Linked DNA regions of Homo sapiens. The protein of the gene in region 1 purifies or fractionates together with the protein of each later gene. This does not show direct contact. Each region holds a gene or a part of one and is shown in the gene's direction. Other genes may lie near its edges.

Region 1 (4,438 bases):
GTTCAGATACTCAATTTTCTGAGTGTGGTGTATCAGGACCTTGGGTACGAAACTTCATTCAGTTTTGGCAACAGATACTTATGGAGTGTTTGCTATGGGACAGGTGCTAAGGATACAGGATTAACCCGTGGAGAGGTTAACAGTGTTAACCTCTCATACTAGGTAAGCGCCGTACAACATGGAAGCCCAGAGCAAGGACACCCCCTAGCTCTCAGCTTTGGGCCAGGCTCAGGGAACACCATCTAGGGGTGGAGGCTGATGCCTTGCCAAGTCCCAAGGCAGAACTTCAAGAGCAGAGAAGAGGGAAAGAGTATTCCAGGAGGAGTAGCAGGATGGTCAGCCAGGAGGTGTGAGCTTACAGAGAAGGACAAGACTGTGATTTAGTGTGACTGTTGTGGGGAACAGGAAGAGATGAGGCCAGCCTATGGAGCATGCAAGGCTACACATGCCCTGCTAAGTTGTGGAGATTTTTATCCTTGGGCAGGGGAGGGTATAGAGGTGAGATCCAGAAAGACACCTGTGGTGGCAGGGTGAGAGAGGGACCTGTTTGGGAGGAGTGTTTGGGGTCAGAGGGATCAAACTCACAATGCAGCTTTTTTTAAAAAAAAAAATTGAGATGGGGTCTCACAACGTTGTCCAGACTGGTCTTGAACTCCTGGGCGCAAGCAATTCTCCCACCTCAGCCTTCCAAAGTGCTGGGATTACAGGCTTGAGCCACTGCACTTGGCCACAGTGCAGCTTTAATTTTTACCAAGAAACATATCTCTAAGTGGACTAGAATCTGGAACTTATTTTCTTTCTGCTGGAAGGTCTTGGCGAATGCAATCAGGTTTGTTTGGTGAATATGGGATACATGCAAAGGGGCTTGTGGAGTTGTTTTGATCATGCTTTTTAAAATTTATTTTTAATTATGCAGGTAATGTTTGAATATATTCTCATTATAAAAAATTCAAATGATACCAGTAAAGTAAAAGTGCCCCTGATAGATCTCACTCTATCCCTCACCCCTCTGCAAAGGTATCAATTGCTCTGTTTGGGGCCCATCCTCCCCCTTCTCCCTTGCCCCACTTGTAATCCCTTAAGAGAGCATCAGCAACGTAGGTTGCCCCAAAAAGCCACCTCCTCTATAGAGACAGACTGCCCCTCCCATGGGGTTTATTGTACCAGTCCCAGATAGTTACCCTTTCTCTTGAGGGCTACTGGAGAAACACGCATTCTTACCATCCATTTCTGTTGCCATATTCCTTATAGGGCACCATTGTTGAGGAAAATAGCCCAGACTACATAGATTCTTGGCTGTCTGTAGGCATGGCCGTCAGCAGCAAGACTGCTCACAGGTGGGGCCTGGCACCATTTCTGGGGACATGCATACATTCTTAGATAAACACACACTTTAGGCCTCGTTTTGCCACGTCACATGAGTTACTGAAATGATGCAGAGAACTGGGCATCTGGATCTGTATCTGAATCAAAGTCTAACTTTTAAAGAAAAGGGAATCAGGTCTGGAATGGACTGGCTAGATCATTTTGTAGTTACCTGAAGAAGGAAAGTATGGAGCTGTTAAAAAGTCTCTTGGCTGGGCACGGTGGTTCACACCTGTAATCCCAGCCCTCTGGGAGGCTGGGGCGGGTCATTTGAGTCCAGGAGTTTGAAAGCAGCCTGGGCAACATGGCGAAACCCTGTCTTTATAAAAAGATTACAAAAAATTAGCCTGTGTGGTGGTGCACGCCTGTAGTCCCAGCTACTTGGGAGGCTGAGGTCGGAGGTTCACCTGAACCAGGAGGTCAAGGCTGTAGTGGGCCGTGATTGTGCCACTGCACTCCATTCTGGGTGACAAAGTGGGACCCTGTCTCAAAAAAAGTCTCTCACTTTCATTTGTTCAGCTAAAAGCACTAGGAAGTAATGTGAAAGTTTACCATTTTCAGTCATTTAAATCTTTGTCCACACTGTGAGGTGTTATTACACACCTATAACACAAGGGTTGCAGTTTCCAAAAATTAGACCTGTGCCTTAAATTACTTTATTGATTGGTGATTTCCTGAGAACTCCCCACTGCTGAACCAAGCTCTTGGCTTTAGGTCTGATCTAGCCTTATCTTACCACTGTCCTCAAAGTCCCAAATTATCCCTGAGGTGTCTTGTTTTGAGACCATTTTCGTGCTGATAAGCTCTCTGATTTTTTTTTTTTTTTTGAGATGGAGTTTCCCTCTTGTTGCCCAGGCTGGAGTGCAATGGCGCGGTCTCGGCTCACTGCAACCTCTGCCTCCTGGGTTCAAGCGATTCTCCTGCCTCAGTCTCCCTAGTAGTTGGGATTACAGGCAGATGCCATGACGCCCAGCTAATTTTTGTATTTTTAGTAGAGATAGGGTTTCACCATGTTGGTCAAGGCTGGTTTTGAACTCCTGACCTCAGGTGATTCGCCCTCCTCGGCCTCCCAAACTGCTGGGATTACAGGCATGAGCCACCGTGCCTGGCCAGCTCTCTGATTTTACACTGGGAGCTCTTGGTATTTCCAGTGCCTGGCCTGGGAAGTACTTATCAAATGTTTGAGGAATCACATTGTGCGTGTGCTGAATACCCAGGCTCAGGATTTCTCACCTTGCTTTTTGGGACCAGGGTTGGATGAGAGAACCTGTAACATTCTTGGGATTCCCTGTACCCCTTAACCATTGGCCTCCGAACTTCAGGTTTGTCACTTGACACAGTCGCAGCTGTACAGTTTTTTGTTCTGTTTTCCCTCCCGAAATAGCATGTTCTGGTTCTCCATTAGCCTGTAGACCCTTTCTGGGGGTGGGAAGTGTGTGGGAATGGCTTCTTTGTGTTAGCTCCAGGCCCTCGCTGCTTAGTGTGGTTGAGGACCAGCAACATGAGCCTCACCTGGGTGCTCATTAGAAAAGCAGGTCCTGCCTCAGACCTATCCAGTCAGGATCTGCATTTTAACAAATCTGGGCAATTTGTACACATAGTGAAGTCTGAAAAGCACTGCATGAAGCTTACCCTGTTCTCATTTGGGGTGCCAAACTGCTCTAATTGGGCCTCCTGGTCCTGGAGGAGTAAGGAGTCTTTCTCTTTTTTTTCCTCCCTCTTTCTGGTTTCTGGCTTGCACTGTCTAGACACCATGACTCCCCAGTGTCTGGGTTAAAGCGCATATAAGCTCCTCTCTGTCCTGAGCCCTCCTGATGCCATTTCCATCTTTGTTGAAGCAAACTCCCTCTCATCCTTTAAGATACACGTGAAATTTCCACCTTATTCTGTGCCTCCACTCCCTAGCAGTTAGGAGTCCTTCTTTTGGGTTTCTTTATAATTTTAAAATTTTGCTTTTATAAATAATACTTTGATAAACATCCTTCTACATTAATCATTGTTTATATCTGTTGTTGTCTTCTTGGATACATTCTGAGAGGTGAAATTGCTGGTCCATGGCTAATTTTTTTTTTTTTTTTTTTTGAGACGAGTTCTTGCTCTGTTGCCCAGTTTGGAGTGCAGTGGCGTGATCTTGGCTCAGTGCAACCTCTGCCTCCCGGGCTCAAGCGATCCTCCTACGTCAGCCTCCCGTGTAGCTGGGACTCCACGCACATACCACTAAGCCTGGCTAATTTTTGTATTTTTAGTAGAGATGGGGTTTCACCATGTTGCCCAGGCTGGTCTCAAACTCCTGGAGTCAAGCAATCCGCCTGTCTCAACCTTCCAAAATGCTGGGATTACAGGCGTGAACCACCACACCTGGCTCATGGCTAACCTTTCTAAGGAAGGCTTTCGATGCTTATTTCCATATTGGAAATTGAATATTGACATTAACTGGGGAAGATCGTTATTATTATTATTATTGGATTAAAAGAAAAAAGGCAGGAGTCTCGCTATGTTGCCTAGCTGGTCTACAAACTCCTGGTCTCAAGCAGGAGTTGTGTCATTGAGCCCGGTTTGGAAAGATCATTCTTTACAAGCCTCTCAACCTTGGTTGTCATTGAAATCACGTGGGAAACTAAGGAAAAAAAAAAACCCTGACGTCTGAGCCCCATCCTCAGAGATTCTCATTTGATTGGTTTAAAGTGCAGCCTTGGCATTGAGATTTTTTGTTTGTTTCCTTACAGATAATATGTAGCTTTTCTATTTTTCTAGTAACTGATTTGATCATTTTCATGAGCACCCATACCTGCTGGATGGTGAGGAAATGATAACAATTAGATTTGTTAATAATAAAAGTGCCTATTAGGTCTATACTTGATATCTCAAGGTAAGATTCTTGATCTCTCAGATTACCTTTTTATTTCTCTGCTCCTCTCAAAGATGGCATCTGAACAGTGGAGGAGAAAAAGTACACAGGTCTGAAAATATATGGATACAGACATAGATACATATAATATTATGTGACTGTCAGTGGGTAGGTATGTGTCTAGAAAGATATCAGCTAATGGGATGGTGATATGGAGGGTGAAGG
Region 2 (4,438 bases), on another chromosome or scaffold:
AAAGAAATTCACTTACTTTTGAAGAATGAAAGCTTTGAACAATTGGATATTTCTATGTCAGTTTATTGGGAGTTTATGTATAAACACCTATAGACACACACATGCATATTTTAAAAAACTGCATATTATGGAAATGTTCAAATATATGCAAAAATAGAATAGTATAATGAACTCTGGTATCCGTTGTGCAGCTTCAACAGTTGTCAACATTTTGGGGATCTTGTGTGTGCGCATGTGTGTGGGGCTTTCATATGTAAGTCTGAGGAAGATAAATGGTAAATTGATTGCTTTACCTCAAAATAGACTTGAAACATTTCCTTTCTGATTTTTTGTTCTTTTTTAAAATGTCATATGCCTTCAGTGAGAAACAGAAATTTGTGGTAGTAATATAATCCATAATTACTTATTTGTGTGTGAAGACACAACATCTTTTGGCAGAAGGAGGATTTGAACTCCTGTTCTTTAGAATGTGCTGTGTTGGAGTGGATGACCAAACGTGAGTCATTTGCATTTTTATCATTAAAGAAAATCCAAATTCTATAGCAGCATTTGCTTATACGCTTCCTAGAACTGTAGACCTGGTATAGATTTTAAGGTCATTGGTTAAGTCCTTCAAAGCTGCGTATTTGCAGGATAGTAGGTGCCTGGATAGAAGGAGAGAGAAGAGTCTGTTCAGTTAGTTACCCTCCTCTTCAATATCATTCGCTTGTCAGGTAGGGCAGGAAAAGTTGCTGAGAATATTAGGTAGCAGTTTCTCCCCTTCCATTGTCCCTTAAAATACTTTTCATGCTCTTTCATGGATTATCTGGGGTTTTGGCCACTCTAGAAAATCTTTGGAAGCAGCTGCGCACAGTGGCTCATGCTTGTAATCCCAGAGCTTTGGGAGGTTCACTTGAGGCCAAGAGTTTGAGACCAGCCTGGGCACTATAGTGAGACCCTGTCTCTACAAAAAAAAAAATTAAATAAAAAATTAGCTGGGCATGGTGGCATATACCTGTGGTCCCAGCTACTTGGGAGGATGAGGTGGGAGGATCCCTTGAGCCCAGGAGTTCGAGGCTACAGTGAGCTACAATCATGCAGAGCAACACCCTGAAAAAAAAAATTAGAACGAAAGTATTGGGATTCTGTAAATTAGTCCATCTCAATGTTGTTAGTACTGCTACACGTAAATATTTCCTAATTGATAGTTAGTCTTTTTTTTTTTTTTTTTTTTTGAGATAGAGTCTCAGTCTGTTGCCCAGGCTGGAGTGCAGTGGTGCAACCTTGCCTCCCTGCAACCTCTGCCTCCTGAGTTCAAGTGATTCTCCTGCCTCAGACTCCCAAGTAGCTGGGACCACAGGCGTGCGCCATGAGGCCCGACTAATTTTTGTATTTTTGGTAGAGGCGGGGTTTCACCATGTTGGCCAGGCTGGTCTCAAAATCTTGACCTCAGGTGATCCACCCGTTCAGCCTCCTGAAGTGCTGGAATTACAGGCTTAAGCCACCACGCCTGGCCTAAATATTAGCTACTTAAACAATAAAGTTTATACTGTTAAAATTGAACAAGTTCCTCTCCTCCAGAGGTGTCCAAATAGTACATGGTAGAGCCATATAACTTTCCAGAGTTTTTTCTCTTTTTTTTTTTTGAGACAGAGTCTTGCTCTGTTGCCTAGGCTGGAGTGCAATGGTGCGATCTCAGCTCACTGCAAGCTCCGCCTCCTGGGTTCATGCCATTCTCCGGCGTCAGCCTCCCAAGTAGCTGGGACTACAGGTGCCCGCCACCACGCCCAGCTAATTTTTTGTATTTTTAGTAGAGACGGGGTTTCACCGTGTCAGCCAGGATGGTCTCGATCTCCTGACCTCGTGATCCGCCTGCCTCAGCCTCCCAAAGTGCTGGGATTACAGGCGTGAACCACTGTGCCCGGCCTTTTTTTTTTTTTTTTTTAATTGAGAGGGAGTCTCACTCTGTCACCCAGGTTGGAGTGCAGTGGTGCGATCTCAGCTCACTGCAACCTCTGCTGCTCGGATTCAAGCAATTCTTGTGCCTCAGCCTCCCCAGTAGCTGGATCTACAGGCACGCACCACCATGCCCGGCTAATTTTTTTGTATTTTTAGTAGAAATTAGGTTTCACCATGTTGGCCAGGCTGGTCTTGAACTCCCGACCTCAGGTGATCTGCCTGCCTTGGCCTTCCCAAAGTGCTGGGATTACAGGTGTGAGCCACCGTGCCTGGCCCAGAGTTTTTTCTTAAGTGCTACCTTCCAACTTTGCTAATGTAGCTTGACCTTAGTCTGTTATAAATTACTTTGAAATTTACTACCCTGTTTATAATTTCTTTTGCAAATCTGTTTTGCAGATAAATTTTGATTAACAGTGCACCAATGTAGTCAAGTGTTTCAAACTTCTGGTCAACTTGTACATTTTTCTTGTTGCAGTTTAAAACATTTTATTTTGTTTTCATCTGTATTTTAAAGTAATTTGTCAAACTTTTAGACCCAGAATAATTAATATATGTTGGCATGTTTTCAGGAACTTGCTGCTGAGTTTAAGGCTTCCATCAGGTATTTAAAGGTATTTAGTGCTACCTAATTCAAGAATAGTGATTCCCATGAGCTGGTGACAAATACATACTTTCATGATTTTTTAAAAAATTTTTGTTAAGTAATTACAGTCACCCCTTGATATGTGGGGGATTGGTTCCAGAACCCCTAGTGGATACCACAATTTTCAGAAGCTCCAGTCTCTTATATAAAATGGTATAGTATTTGCATATAACTTACATGTATCTTCCGTATACTTTAAATCATCTCTTTAAAATTTTTATTTATTTATTTATTTATTTATTTATTTTTTTGAGATGGAGCCTCACTCTGTCCCCCATGCTGGAGTGCAGTGGCGCGATCTCGGCTCACTGCAAGGTCCGCCTCCCAGGTTCACGCCATTCTCCTGCCTCAGCCTCCCAAGTAGCTGGGACTACAGGCACGTGCCACCACGCCCAGCTAATTTTTTGTATTTTTAGTAGAGACAGGGTTTAACCGTGTTAGCCAGGATGGCCTGGATCTCCTGACCTCGTGATCCACCCGCCCTGGCCTCTCAAAGTGCTGGGATTACAGGCGTGAGCCACCGCGCCTTGCTCTGTTGCCCAGGCTTGAGTACAGTGGCTTGATCATAGCTCACTGTAGCCTCAAATTCCTGGGCTTAAGCTGCTCTCCTGCCTCAGTCTCCTGAGTAGCTAGGACTTAGAGGCGTATGCCACCAAAACCCGCTAGTTTTTTTTTTTTTTTTTGAGACAGAGTCTTGCTCCCTCACCAGGCTGGAGTGCAGTGGCGCGATCTTGGCTCAGTGTAACCTCCACTTCCTGGGTTCAAGCAATTCTCCTGCCTCAGCCTCCTGAGTAGCTGGGATTACAGGCGTGTGCCACCACACCCAGCTAATTATTGTATTTTTAGTAGAGACGGGGTTTCACCATGTTGGCCAGGCTGGTCTCAAACTCCTGGCCTCAAGTGATCTGCCTGCCTTGGCTTCCTGAAAATGCTGGGATTACAAGTTTGAGCCACCATGCCCGGCTTTCTCCCATATACTTTAAATCATCTCTAGATTACTTAGAATACCTAATAGAATGTAAATTCTATATAAACAGTTGTACTCTATATTTGAAAATTTGAGCTGGGCACAGTGGCTCATGCCTATAATCCCAGCAGTTTGGGAGGCTGAGGTGGGAGGTCAGAAGTTTGAGGTCAGAAGTTCAACACCAGCCTGTGCAACATAGTAAGACCTTGTCTGTATAAGAAAAAAAAATACCATTTTATATATATATATATATATATATATATATATATATATATTTTTTTTTTTTTTTTTTTTGAGATGGAGTCTCACTCTGCCACCCAGGCTGGAGTGCAGTGGCGTGATCTTGGCTCACTGCAACCTCCGCCTCCCGGGTTCAAGCAATTCTATCTCAGCCTCCTGAGTAACTGGTATTACAGGGATGCACCAGCAAGCCCGGCTAATTTTTGTATTTTTGGTAGAGATGGCGTTTCACCACGTTGGCTAGACTGTTCTTGAACTCCTGACCTCGTGATCCGCCTGCCTCAGCCTCCCAAAGTGCTCGGATTACAGGCGTGAGCCACTGCGCCCAGCCTAGAGGTGGCTTTTTTAAACCTTCATTGAGATATGCAGTTGACTCTTGAATAACATGAGTTTGAACTGCATGGGTCCATTTATATGGTGATTTTTTTTTTCAACCAAACTCGAATTGAAAATACAGTATTCCTGGGATGTGAAACTGTTGCATACTAAGGGCTTACTTTTTATATCACTGGGTTCCACAGGGCCATTGCAGGACTTATCTGAGTATGCTCAGATTTTGGTCTATGCAGGAGTCCTGGAACCAATGTCCCCAGTATAGCAAGGGACAACTGTATTTTACATGCCATAAAAACCACTAATTTTAGGCTGGG
Region 3 (4,438 bases), on another chromosome or scaffold:
ATCACTTGAAGCCAACAGTTCGAGACCAGCCTGGGCAACACAGCAAGACCCTGGGTCTCTGCAAACTATTTTCAAATTAGCTGGGCATGGTGGCACGCGTCTGTAGTCCCAGCTTCTCGACGCTCTGGGGCTGGAGGATCACTTGGGCCCAGAAGTTGGAGGCTGCATTGAGCTATGATCACGCCCCTGGGGCAGCAGGATTAGGGTGCTGTCCCAAGAACAAAGTCTTTGAGTCATCAGCCTGTTTCTTGGGTAAGGTAAACATTGGGGCTGGTGAGTGAGCCACATAATCTGGAGTGTGCCCTCGACCCTGCGGGGCCCTTGCGTCTGTTAGCATCTGTAAGGTGCCAGGCTAATGCTGAATCTTCTTTTGGGCCAGGTGATTGTCTGACAAGCAGAGGCATGAGCTGGGTCCAGGCCACCCTACTGGCCCGAGGCCTCTGTAGGGCCTGGGGAGGCACCTGCGGGGCCGCCCTCACAGGAACCTCCATCTCTCAGGTAAGCACCAGCCAGGCAGTCTTTTGGGTAGAGGGAGGTAAGCTTGGGATTTGCTCCCAACTCCTTCAGAATCCACTCTGTGAAGCCAGTTCTGGTGAGTCTGGGCTGGCCTATCAGTGCCGAGGTCCCATTAAAAGTCCTTAGTTTATGTATGTATGTATGTTTATGTGTTTGTTTTTTGAGACAGTGTCTCTGTCACCAAGGCTGGAGTGCAGTAGTGTGATTACAGCTCACTGTAGTCTTGACCTCCCAGGTTCAAGCAATCCTCCCGCCTCATCCTCCCAAGTACCCAGGACTACAGGCACATACTACCACACCCGGCTAGTTTTTGTATTTTTTTTGTAGAGACGGGGTTTCACCATGTTGGGCAGGCTGGTCTTGAACTCTGGGCTCAAGTGATCCACCTGCGTCAGCCTCCCAAAGTGCTGGGATTACAGGCGTGAGCCACCGCGCCTGGCCAAAAGTCCATAATTTATTTATTTTTTTGAAACAAGGTCTTGCTCTATCACCCAGGCTGGAGTACAGTGGTGGAATCAGGGCTCACTGCAGCCTCAAACTCCTGGGCTCAAATGAGCCTCCCACCTCAGCCCCCTGAGTAGCTGGGATCACTGATTTGAGCCACCATGCCCAGCTAATTTTTTTTTTTTTAGATGGAATTTTGCTCTTGTCGCCAAAGCTGGAGTGCAGTGGCGTGGTCTTGGCTCACTGCAACCTCTGCCTCCTGGGTTCAAGTGATTCTCCTGCCTCAGCCTGCCGAGTAGCTGTGATTACAAGTGCACATCACCACGCCCAGCTAATTTTTGTAATTTTAGTAGAGACGCGGTTTTGCCATGTTGGCGAGGCTGGTCTCAAACTCCTGACCTCAGGTGATTCACCCGCCTCGGCCTCCCAGAGTGCTGGGATTACAGGCATAAGCCACCGCACCCGGCCGCTAATTTTTTTTTTTTTTAAGTATATGGTCTTGTTGTGTTGCCCAGACTGGTCTTGAACCTCTGGGCCCTCAGTCCTTCCACTTTGGCCTCCCAAAGTGCTAGGATTACAAGTGTGAGCCACTGTGCCTGGACCCTAATTTAAGAGATGCTAGTGCCTACGTGGGTGAGGGGATTGACTTTGAAAATAAGGATGTATGAGCTCGGTGGATTTGTGTGGTGACTGTGAGCAGCTCCTCCTGCATCTACTTGTGAAGATGGGGCAGAAAACTGAATTTCTTTCCTATACCCATAGTGACCAGATGGCGAAAGCAGATTGACAGCCATAGATAGCAATAACGATGATGGTGGGAATATTAATAGTTCCCATATTGAGCACTTACTCTGTGCCCGGCCCCGCACTATGCATTTCATTTACATTACCTCCTTTGCAGTGTTTCCCCCTCGTTAGGCATTTTAGAGCTTCCTTTCTGATTTTTACCCCAAAGTGGTACAATACTACACCACCTATATTATTAATTGACTGAAATTTCAGTTGTTTTTTGTTTTTGAGATGGAGTCTCCCTCTGTCACCCAGGCTGGAGTGCAGTGGCGTGATCTCAGCTCATTGCAACCTCTGCCTCCCGGGTTCAAGTGATTTTCCTGCCTCAGCCTCCTGAGTAGCTGGGATTACAGGTGTGCGGCACCACACCTGGCTAATTTTTGCATTTTTGGTAGAGATGGGGTTTCACCATGTTGGCCAGGCTGGTCTCAAACTCCTGACCTCAAGTGATCCACCCGCCTCTCAAAAGTGCTGGGATTACAGGCACGAGCCACTGCGCCCAACCTGAAATTTTACTGTAAATGAATGCCTTTTTTTTTTTTTAACATTGCCTTATCAAAGAACGATATGGGATGGCTGTGGGGACCGCAGAGTAGGGGGACTGAGGGCACTGACTCCATTCTCAGCTCTGATGCTTTGCAGCTGTGTAACACTGTGCATCCCACTTCATCTTCCTGAGCCTTGGTTTTTCTCATCTGTAAAATGAGTGCAGTAAGAGTACCCCCCACCTAGGGCCTCACATTTGTAAAGTGCTCAACTGTGTCTACAGTGGAAGAATATTTGGTAAATATTGTCTCTTTCTTTTGAGATAGGGTCTCGCTCTGTTGCCCATGCTGGAGTGTAGTGGCGTGATCTTGGCTCACTGCAACCTCGACCCGCCAGTCTCAATTGATCTGCCTACTTCAGCCTCCTGAGTAGCTGGGACTACATACATTCACCACCATGCCTGGCTAATTTTTGTATTTTTTTGTAGACATGAGGTTTCAGCAGGTTGCCCAGGCTGGTCTCAAACTCCTGACCTCAGGTGATCTGCCCGCCTCAGCCTCCCAAAGTGCTAGGATTACAGGTGTGAGCCACCGAGCCTGGACTAATATTGGCTCTTACTTGTTAGCGTTTTGTGTGTGTGTGTGTGTGTGTGTAGATAAACACACACACATTCATTTATTTTTTAGAGATAAGGTTTTACTCTCTCGTTCAGGTTGGAGTGCAGTGACACAATCATAGCTCACTGCAGCCTGGGATTCCTGGGCTTAAGCAGTCCTCCTGCTTCAGCCTCCTGAGTAGCTGGGACTACAGGTATACACCACCACGCCCCGCTTATTTTTTTATTTTTTCATAGAGAGATGGAGTCTCACTATGTTGCCCAGGCTGCAATGCGGTGGTGCAATCAAAGCACAGTACAACCTTGATAACTAGCTGTATATTTTTAAGATGCCTTATATGTAACCCTTCTAATTTAAAAATTCAATTTAAAATAAGAAATTTGTTACTGTGTCATCTAGAACCAGAATTTGGCTACTCTGGAGGCTGAGGTGGGAGGATCACTTGAGCCCAGGAGTTCTGGGCTGTTGTGCACTATGCTGATGGAGTGTCCTGCACTAAGTTTTGCTTAATATTGTGACCTCCTGGGACTTGGGGGACCACCAGGTTGCCTAAGGAAGTGTGAACTGACCCAGGTTGGAAACAGCAGGTCAAAACTCCTGTGCTGACCAGTTGGCTCATGCCTGTGAATAGCCACTGCACTCCCGCCTGGGCAACATAGCTAGACTCCATCTCTTAAAGGGTCCCAGCACTTTGGGAGGCCACGGTGGGTGGATCACCTTAGGTCAGGAATTCGAGACCATCCTGGCCAACATGGTGAAACCCCGTCTCTACTAAAAACACAAAAATTAGGCCGGGCATGGTGGCTCACATCTGTAATCCCAGCACTTTGGGAGGCCGAGGTGGGCGGATCACAAGGTCAGGAGTTCAAGACCAGCCTGGCCAACATGGTGAAACCCTGTCTCTACTAAAAATACAAAAGTTAACTGGGCATGGTGGCATGTGCCTGTAATCCCAGCTACTTGGGAGGCTGAGGCAGAAGAATTGCTTGAACCAGGGAGTCAGAGGTTATAGTGAGCTGAGATCGTGTGACTGCACTCCAGCCTGGCAACAGAGCGAGACTCCATCTCAGGAAAAACAAACAAACAAAACATAAAAATTAGCTGGGCATGGTGGCAGGCGCCTGTAATCCTAGCTACTTGGGAGGCTGAGGCAGGAGAATCGCTTGAACCCACAAGGCAGAGGTTGCAGTGAGCTGAGATGACACCATTGCATTCCAGCCTGGGCGACGAGTGAAACTCTGTCTCAAGAAAAAAAGAAAAAGAAAGAAGGGGCTGGGTACAGTGGCTCATGCCTGTAATCTCAAGACTTAAGGTGGCTACGCCGGGCGCGGTGGCTCATGCCTGTAATCCCAGCACTTGGGAGGCCAAGGCGGGCGGATCACGAGGTCAGGAGATCGAGACCATCCTGACTAACACAGTGAAACCCCGTCTCTACTAAAAATCCAAAAAATTAGCTGGGCGTGGTGGCAGGCGCCTGTAGTCCCAGCTACTCAGGAGGCTGAGGCAGGAGAATGGCGTGAACCCGGGAGGTGGAGCTTGCAATGAGCCGAGATCGCGCCACTGCACTCCAGCCTGGGTGACAAAGC
Region 4 (4,438 bases), on another chromosome or scaffold:
ACGAAGACTTGGCAGCGTGTACTGGAAATTCAAGCGATGCTGGGTTTTATCAGAAGGCGCAAAGGCTGGAGCTGAGATTCTGGCTGGGCCTGGATTTGGTTTGGGCAGTTTATCTGACCTCCCTGGGCCCCAGCTGGCTCTGCATAGCGAGTAGGGTAGCATCCACTCAAAGTCCCGGTCCACTGTGGCCCGGCACTGATCCAGGCGAGTTCTCAGTAAGTGGGAACTCACAGGTTCAGAAGATGCTGTGGGCCTCAGGGGCTTCCACCTCCAGGGAGGTGCTCTCAGAAGAAGGGCCCGATGGGCTCACTGCATCGTGGAGAAGATACCCTGGCTCAGTCTCAGTCACTTCTCCAAGCGCATAGGTGTTCGGGAAGTGGCCTGCAGACAGCTCCTCCATGCCTTGAAAGCAGAAGTAGCCCCCTCCTGTTTCCCTGTCCCAGTTGGGTGAAGCATGGGGGGCTGCTGAGACAGTCCCAGGCGTGCCGTCACGCAGGGGCAGGCCGTCCGTCGGTCTCGCGGGACTCTGGCTGCGGGTGGCTGAGGACACCTGGCCTCATGGGAGACGGTGCCAGGGTCCCTGGAGTGAGGTGGCTCTCCTCCCCATGGCTGTCACTCCTCAGCAGATTGGTGTGGGCGGGTATGCGTTTAGGAACCTGTGAGCTGAGACACTGTCCAGCTAGCATCAGGCCAAAAGCAACCAAGGCTTTGAGAAATCCACCTGGCCCCGCCGAGCCTGTTTCTGACTGTGGAATGGGATTGGCCCCAGCGCCAGGTGTCTGGGAATCCCAGGCCTCTGCGTGTGAAGGTGCCAGTTGCACGGGCTGTGACCGTCCCTCCACGTGCCTGTATCTCCTGCTCACTGTGCACATGGAGCAGCCCTCAGCCTCACTGTCTTCTCCTCTGGCAAAAGAAGGAAGGAGCAAGGGAACAAAGAGAGGGAGGGAAGAGCCAGAGACAGGAGCCAGGGTTTCCTTTAGTCTGGAGCTCTGGGTGCGAGATGATGTCACCCACCCACGCTCGGCACAGGCCCAGGGTCGGGGGGCTATGGGTGGAAGTAGGAATCGCCACAACTGTCTCTGAGCCCCTCCCTAAAGGGTGAAGGGTGTAAGGGGTGGGTTTTGATGGCTGTGGGCTTAGCTGTGGTCAGTGGACTCAAAGGCCAGTTGGCCAGTTAGCAGTGACCAGAGAGCAGAGGGGGCCTGTGTGTGTTTTGCCCCAGGGTCTTCAGGCTGCCTGGCTGCCTCTATCTGCCCCCTGGGTGTCCAGCACCACCCCCCCAACCGCTGGGGTATCCAGCACCTGTAACCTGTAGCCCCGCTTCTCAGTCCAGGCCTGTTCCAGGGCCCCCCTGGGGTATCAAGCACCTGTAGCCTGTAGCCCCACTTCTCAGTCCAGGCCTGTGTAAAACCTGGCCCCGGGTTGGGTTTTGGGATCCCTGCACCCCTCCACCCCCAACCCCCCACAGCTGGGATCCTGGCTCAGCTGGCAAAGGTTCTGCGTGTTTAAGGAGCTGGGTGGGCCCCAGAGCTCAAGCCGTGGGCTCATTGCAGGCGGCAGCCAGTGATTAGTGCTGAAATCTGACTTTCCCAGCCGCACATGAAAGTGCCGCCGGCACCTAGGCAGGTCACGCTGCATCACGGGATTCGGGGCAAGGCCGTAGGGGGAGCTCACAGAAGCACATGACCTGAGCCACACAGGAGAGCCTAACGGGCACTTGTGACCCTTTTTTCTTGGGTCACAGACCTCTTTCATAATCCAGCAGAATGTGCAGAATCTTGCCCAGAAATGTGTATCAGCCGCCTTCACACAGAAGGGTGGGTTGCGCAGACCCCCGGGGGCCCAGGCCAGGTTGAGAGCCACCCCCAGGAGAGGGGTGTCCAAGGTAGGGCACACTCTTGGACCACCTCTTGGCACCTCTTGGCCACCTCTTGGCCACCACTTTGCACTCCAGCCTTTGAAGCCAGTGATAATCCCCAATTTACAGCTGGGGAAACTGAGGCAGGAGCGAGCCAGGAGCCAGGGGCCACAGTGCCCACCTCTACACTGAGGCCACCATTTGTCATCAGGCATAGGGGAGCACAAAGCCACGCCTGGGGAGTCTGGTGGGTGCCAGGGGTCTGGGGAGGTGTCAGTCAGCAAGACTGGGTGGCCCAGTCGGCCCAGGTAAGGACACAGGTGGGTCAGAGGCTCATCTGTGTTCCCCAGCATCCCCTAGGGGCCCTTTGCGCTCCTCCACCCTTCTCCATCCTTCCCAGACTCACATCCAGGTACCCTGGACAGCCACAGGGTTCTGCCCCCCAGTAGGCCTGGCCCTCCCTGGAGCATCACCTGGATAGCTGGCCATGGGCAGGCCTTGCCTGGCCCGTCTGCAGGGACAGGACACGTGTATGCATGCAGATTGGTACTGTGTGCCCGCACGCTCCCCAGAGGCCCTGTGGCAGCACCCTCTTCCCGCTGCTGCCCTTTTCCAACAGGAGGGCCCCCCACAGCGTCTCCTTCCCTGATACTGGCCGAATCCTGAATTCTCCCTCTGGAAGGCGGACCCTCCGGGGTGGCCACAGCACGTGCGTGCCTCCGGGAGTGTGGGAGGCGTCTCTCCCTGCATCCCTGGCCGTCAGACCACCCCAGGTGGGGACCGTTCTCTGGCATTGCCCGCCCCTCCCCTGCCCTAGGATTTGCCCACTACGTGAGGAATGAGCACCGACCTCCTATTCTGGGCCTTGGAGCGTGACGCCCGCAAACTCGATCCCTGCTGAGTCATCCTGACCTCGGGGTGGGCCAGCATCTGTCACTACTGAGACACTGTATGTGTGAGCTGCTTGTTAACGAGAAAGCCAGACTCTGTAAAATGTTTGAAGAGATTTATCCGGAGTCAAATGTGAGGACCAAGGCCTGGAGGCCCTGAGGACATGTGCCCCAGGGGGTGGGCCACAGCTGGAGTTCATACCTCCTACAAGGACAGAAGTTACAGGCAGACATCAGTCAGTACATGAAAGGTATTTGTTGGTTCTGCCGAGAAAGGCGGGACAACTCCAAGGCGGGGATGGGCTTCCTGGTCACAGGTGGGTTCGAAGATTTCCTTTTTCTTTATATATATATGTGTGTGTGTGTGTGTGTGTGTGTGTGTGTGTGTGTGTGTGTGTGTGTGTGTGTGTGTATTTTTTTTTTTTTTTGAGATGCTTTTGTTACTCGGGCTGGAGTGCAGTGGTATGATCTCAGTTCACTGCAACCTCCGCCTCCTGGGTTCAAGTGATTCTCCTGCCTTAGCTTCCCGAGTAGCTGGGACTACAGGCATGCACCACCATGCCCAGCTAATTTTGTGTTTTTAGTAGAGACGGGGGTTTCACCATGTTGGTCAGGCTGGTTTCGAACTCTTGATCTCAGGTGATCCGCCCACCTTGGCTTCCCAAAGTGCTGGGATTACAGGTGTGAGCCACCGTGCCTGGCAAAAGATTTTCTGATTCACAATTGGTTGAAAGAGTTATTAGCTAAAGACCTGGTATCAATAGAAAGGAGTATCTGGGTAAGACAGGAGGTTGTGGAGACGAATATTGTGTTTTGTTTTGTTTTGTTTTGTTTTGTTTTTGTCACCCAGGCTGGAGTGCAGTGGCATGATCTCAGCTCACTGCAACCCGGTTCAAGCGATTCTCCTGCCTCAGCCTCGCAAGTAGCTGGGATTGCAGGTGCCTGCCGCCACCATGCCTGGCTAATTTTGTATTTTTAGTAGAGATGGGGTTTCTCCATGTTGGTCGGGCTGGTCTCGAACTCCTGACCTCGTGATCTGCCCACCTCAGCCTCCCAAAGTGCTGGGATTACAGGCATGAGCCACTGAGCCAGGCCAAGATCTGTGTTTGAGTGTTAGTGCTGGTCCGCTGTACCTGAATTCCAGAGGGAGGGGGTATAACAAGGCCTGTGTGACCCCCTCTTCCCATCGTGACCTGAGCTCGTTTTTCAGGTTAACTTTGGAATATCCCTTTGGCAATAGGAGGGGTCCCTTTAGTCAGTTACGGGGCTTAGAATTTTATTTTTGGTGTACGTGCTCAAACTGCAGCTGCTACAAAACCAAGGCCATGGTGACCCCGGGGCCAGTCCAGCTTTGTCCCTGTGCTCTCGAGCTGCTGGAGGCCAATGCAGGATTCTGTCCACGGCTCTCATGTGTGGCTTCAGAGCCTGAGGGTTCTTGGGGCCCTGTCTTCACCTGCTACCGTGTAGGGGCCTTGTGAGCTGAGTCAACTGGAAGAGCCCAGGGCCTCTGCAGAAGGCCTGAGCAGGGCCCGGGCACTGTCCCTGGAGCTCTGAGTCCCTCAAGCTGTGTGGCCCGGAGCCAGGCGCTTGACTTCTCTGGTCGTTTGCTTCAGAGCTGGAAGCCTGGGGTGACGTGGGTCTTTGGCAGGGGTCAGGTAGGGGAGGGGCCAGCCAGGAATCAAACATCCCT
Region 5 (2,600 bases), on another chromosome or scaffold:
ATGGCTTCCTCTAGAAATAATTCTGTATCTGGACTATCAGTCAAATCAAAAAATAATACCAAACAAAAGCTTCCTGTGAAAAGCCACTCAGAATGTGGAATCATAGAAAAAGCAACGTCACCAAAAGAACTGGGCTGTGACAGGCAATCCGAAGAGCAAATGAAGAATTCTGTTCAGACTCCCGTTGAAAACTCCACCAACAGTCAGCACCAGGTCAAAGAAGCTTTACCTGTGTCACTCCCCCAGATTCCTTGTCTGTCTTCCTTTAAAATCCATCAGCCATACACGTTGACTTTTGCTGAATTGGTAGAGGATTATGAACATTATATTAAAGAGGGGTTAGAGAAACCTGTGGAAATCATCAGGCACTACACAGGCCCTGGGGATCAGACTGTGAATCCTCAAAATGGTTTTGTGAGAAATAAAGTTATTGAACAGAGAGTCCCTGTGTTGGCAAGTAGTAGCCAATCTGGAGACTCTGAGAGTGACAGTGATTCTTACAGCTCAAGAACCTCTTCCCAGAGCAAAGGAAATAAGTCATACTTGGAAGGCTCTTCTGATAATCAGCTGAAAGACTCTGAATCTACGCCTGTGGATGATCGTATTTCTTTGGAACAACCACCAAATGGAAGTGACACCCCCAATCCAGAGAAATATCAAGAATCACCTGGAATCCAGATGAAGACAAGACTTAAAGAGGGGGCTAGCCAGAGAGCTAAGCAGAGCCGGAGAAACCTACCCAGGCGGTCTTCCTTCAGATTGCAGACTGAAGCCCAGGAAGATGATTGGTATGACTGTCATAGGGAAATACGTCTGAGTTTTTCTGATACCTATCAGGATTATGAGGAGTACTGGAGAGCTTACTACAGGGCATGGCAAGAATATTATGCTGCCGCTTCTCATTCATATTATTGGAATGCTCAGAGACATCCAAGTTGGATGGCAGCTTATCACATGAATACCATTTATCTACAAGAAATGATGCATAGTAACCAGTGATTATAGGATATACCTGAGACCATCAGGAACTGTCAACAAATGATACCTTTGGATATCCATCCTCCTCGACTTATAGTACAGTGGTGTATAGTGGCATTTCTGATAAACTTGAAAAGACTTGAGTCTTTCCACTGGGACACATCCATTTTTCAGATTGTTTTGATTTAGGCCAGGTATATTATCTTCATTTTTAAGAGTTTCTTTAAGAAACTTCATCAGATTGTTGAAAGATAATTTTTGGGACATAGAGCTGAAAGTTTCAGGGTGCCATTTTCTATAAGATCTTCCCAAAAGAAACATTTAAAAAGATGACATATACCACCACTTACTTAAAAACAATAAAAGCAATAGATTTGATTAGTAATATTATTGCTGTGGAGTTCTTTACAAAGGGCTTAGGCTGCATTTCCTTCTATAGAGGTGCATTCTTGTAGAAATTTGTAGCATGGTAGATCAGAAAATCCTCTTAGGTTTTAGGCAGGAAGGAATATTTAAACATTGCTTTAGATTTTCCTAAAGGTATTTGATTTGATCTGTTAGCTTCCAGTAAAAATATTTGTTTTTAGTAAAAACAAATTTAAATATATTTACATGTTTGTTGTTTATCTTTTGAATGTCTTTTGAGGCTGTGAAAGCTGTCCACATTTTTGCTGTGTATTAAATAGCTGTGGGTCATCAGTTGCTGTCTTACTTGTGTTGCTCAGATAGAGGAGCAGCTCTTAATCTTTTTTGGTTCTTGGATCCTTTTATGAATCAGCTGATAGCTATAGATTGACTTCAGGAAATTTCTCATTCCATAAGCACAGAATTGTGAGTGTAATTTCAAGGGGTTCATAGACCCTCTGAAGTTCATCTATACAGTCCAGATTAACAAGTGACCTGCTCTGCTGGTAGGCTAGGGGAAGTTCTAGCTCTTAGTTTTAAGTATTTTGTGGAAGCTGGAATTGATTCTCTTCAGACACTTCTTAGTACATCCTAATTTTGTGTCTTCTAGAAAATTTTCCCCAGTTTTTACCTCTAATGTTAGGATCCAAGAGGAGCTTGGATCTGAGCTGATGCATCTGTAAATTACGATTTAGAAAAATATAATTGGAAATTACATATTCTTTGCTTTTTTCCTCTGGAAATCCTTTTATGATTAAGCTTTTGGTTCCCAAGCCTTTCTGTGAACTGGATTTTTTATGAGAGAACCACTTGTGTAGAGAGATGTGTATTCACTTTTTAAAAGGAAAGCTCTTCTTTCCTGTGTACATACTTGTCTAGGTAGTATAAACACTTTCCCCAGGGCTGTCAGCAAACACCCACAGCCATTGTCATTTATTGTCCAACACCTACATAACACAATTCTAAAATCCTACTTAACTTGGATTCCTGTCATTTGGATTGGGCAATATTAGGCTTTTCTTACATGTGTCAGTATGTGAATTAATTAATAATGTAGATAGCAAATCCATAATTAGGTCCAGTATGTCATTAAGAAGTAGAGATTTTAATTACACATTTAAATAAGATCCTGTCATTGATATATAATTGAATTTACTTTTTCCATCCTTTCCCCCACAATACAGCCAAGTTCAGTTTGTCATTGCTGGGGGATTTTA

What was found.
Region 2: the proteins of PARP16 (region 1) and LRBA purify together in Homo sapiens (affinity purification with mass spectrometry, with the first as the bait; one large-scale study listed by BioGRID). This does not show direct contact.
Region 3: the proteins of PARP16 (region 1) and ECSIT purify together in Homo sapiens (affinity purification with mass spectrometry, with the first as the bait; one large-scale study listed by BioGRID). This does not show direct contact.
Region 4: the proteins of PARP16 (region 1) and SLC7A5 purify together in Homo sapiens (affinity purification with mass spectrometry; one large-scale study listed by BioGRID and IntAct). This does not show direct contact.
Region 5: the proteins of PARP16 (region 1) and DDX20 purify together in Homo sapiens (affinity purification with mass spectrometry, with the first as the bait; one large-scale study listed by BioGRID). This does not show direct contact.

The regions. Positions count from the first base shown.
Region 1 is NC_000015.10:65,279,446-65,283,883, reverse strand, and holds part of PARP16 (protein mono-ADP-ribosyltransferase PARP16), read left to right. Parts: intron 1-4,438. UniProt on the Homo sapiens protein: Intracellular mono-ADP-ribosyltransferase that plays a role in different processes, such as protein translation and unfolded protein response (UPR), through the mono-ADP-ribosylation of proteins involved in those processes.
Region 2 is NC_000004.12:151,008,374-151,012,811, reverse strand, and holds part of LRBA (lipopolysaccharide-responsive and beige-like anchor protein), read left to right. Parts: intron 1-4,438. UniProt on the Homo sapiens protein: Involved in coupling signal transduction and vesicle trafficking to enable polarized secretion and/or membrane deposition of immune effector molecules. Involved in phagophore growth during mitophagy by regulating ATG9A trafficking to mitochondria.
Region 3 is NC_000019.10:11,515,135-11,519,572, reverse strand, and holds part of ECSIT (evolutionarily conserved signaling intermediate in Toll pathway, mitochondrial isoform 1 precursor), read left to right. Parts: intron 1-379; 5' UTR 380-402; coding exon 403-498; intron 499-4,438.
Region 4 is NC_000016.10:87,859,064-87,863,501, reverse strand, and holds part of SLC7A5 (large neutral amino acids transporter small subunit 1), read left to right. Parts: intron 1-4,438. UniProt on the Homo sapiens protein: The heterodimer with SLC3A2 functions as a sodium-independent, high-affinity transporter that mediates uptake of large neutral amino acids such as phenylalanine, tyrosine, leucine, histidine, methionine, tryptophan, valine, isoleucine and alanine.
Region 5 is NC_000001.11:111,765,901-111,768,500, forward strand, and holds the end of DDX20 (probable ATP-dependent RNA helicase DDX20), read left to right. Parts: coding exon 1-999; 3' UTR 1,000-2,100; downstream 2,101-2,600.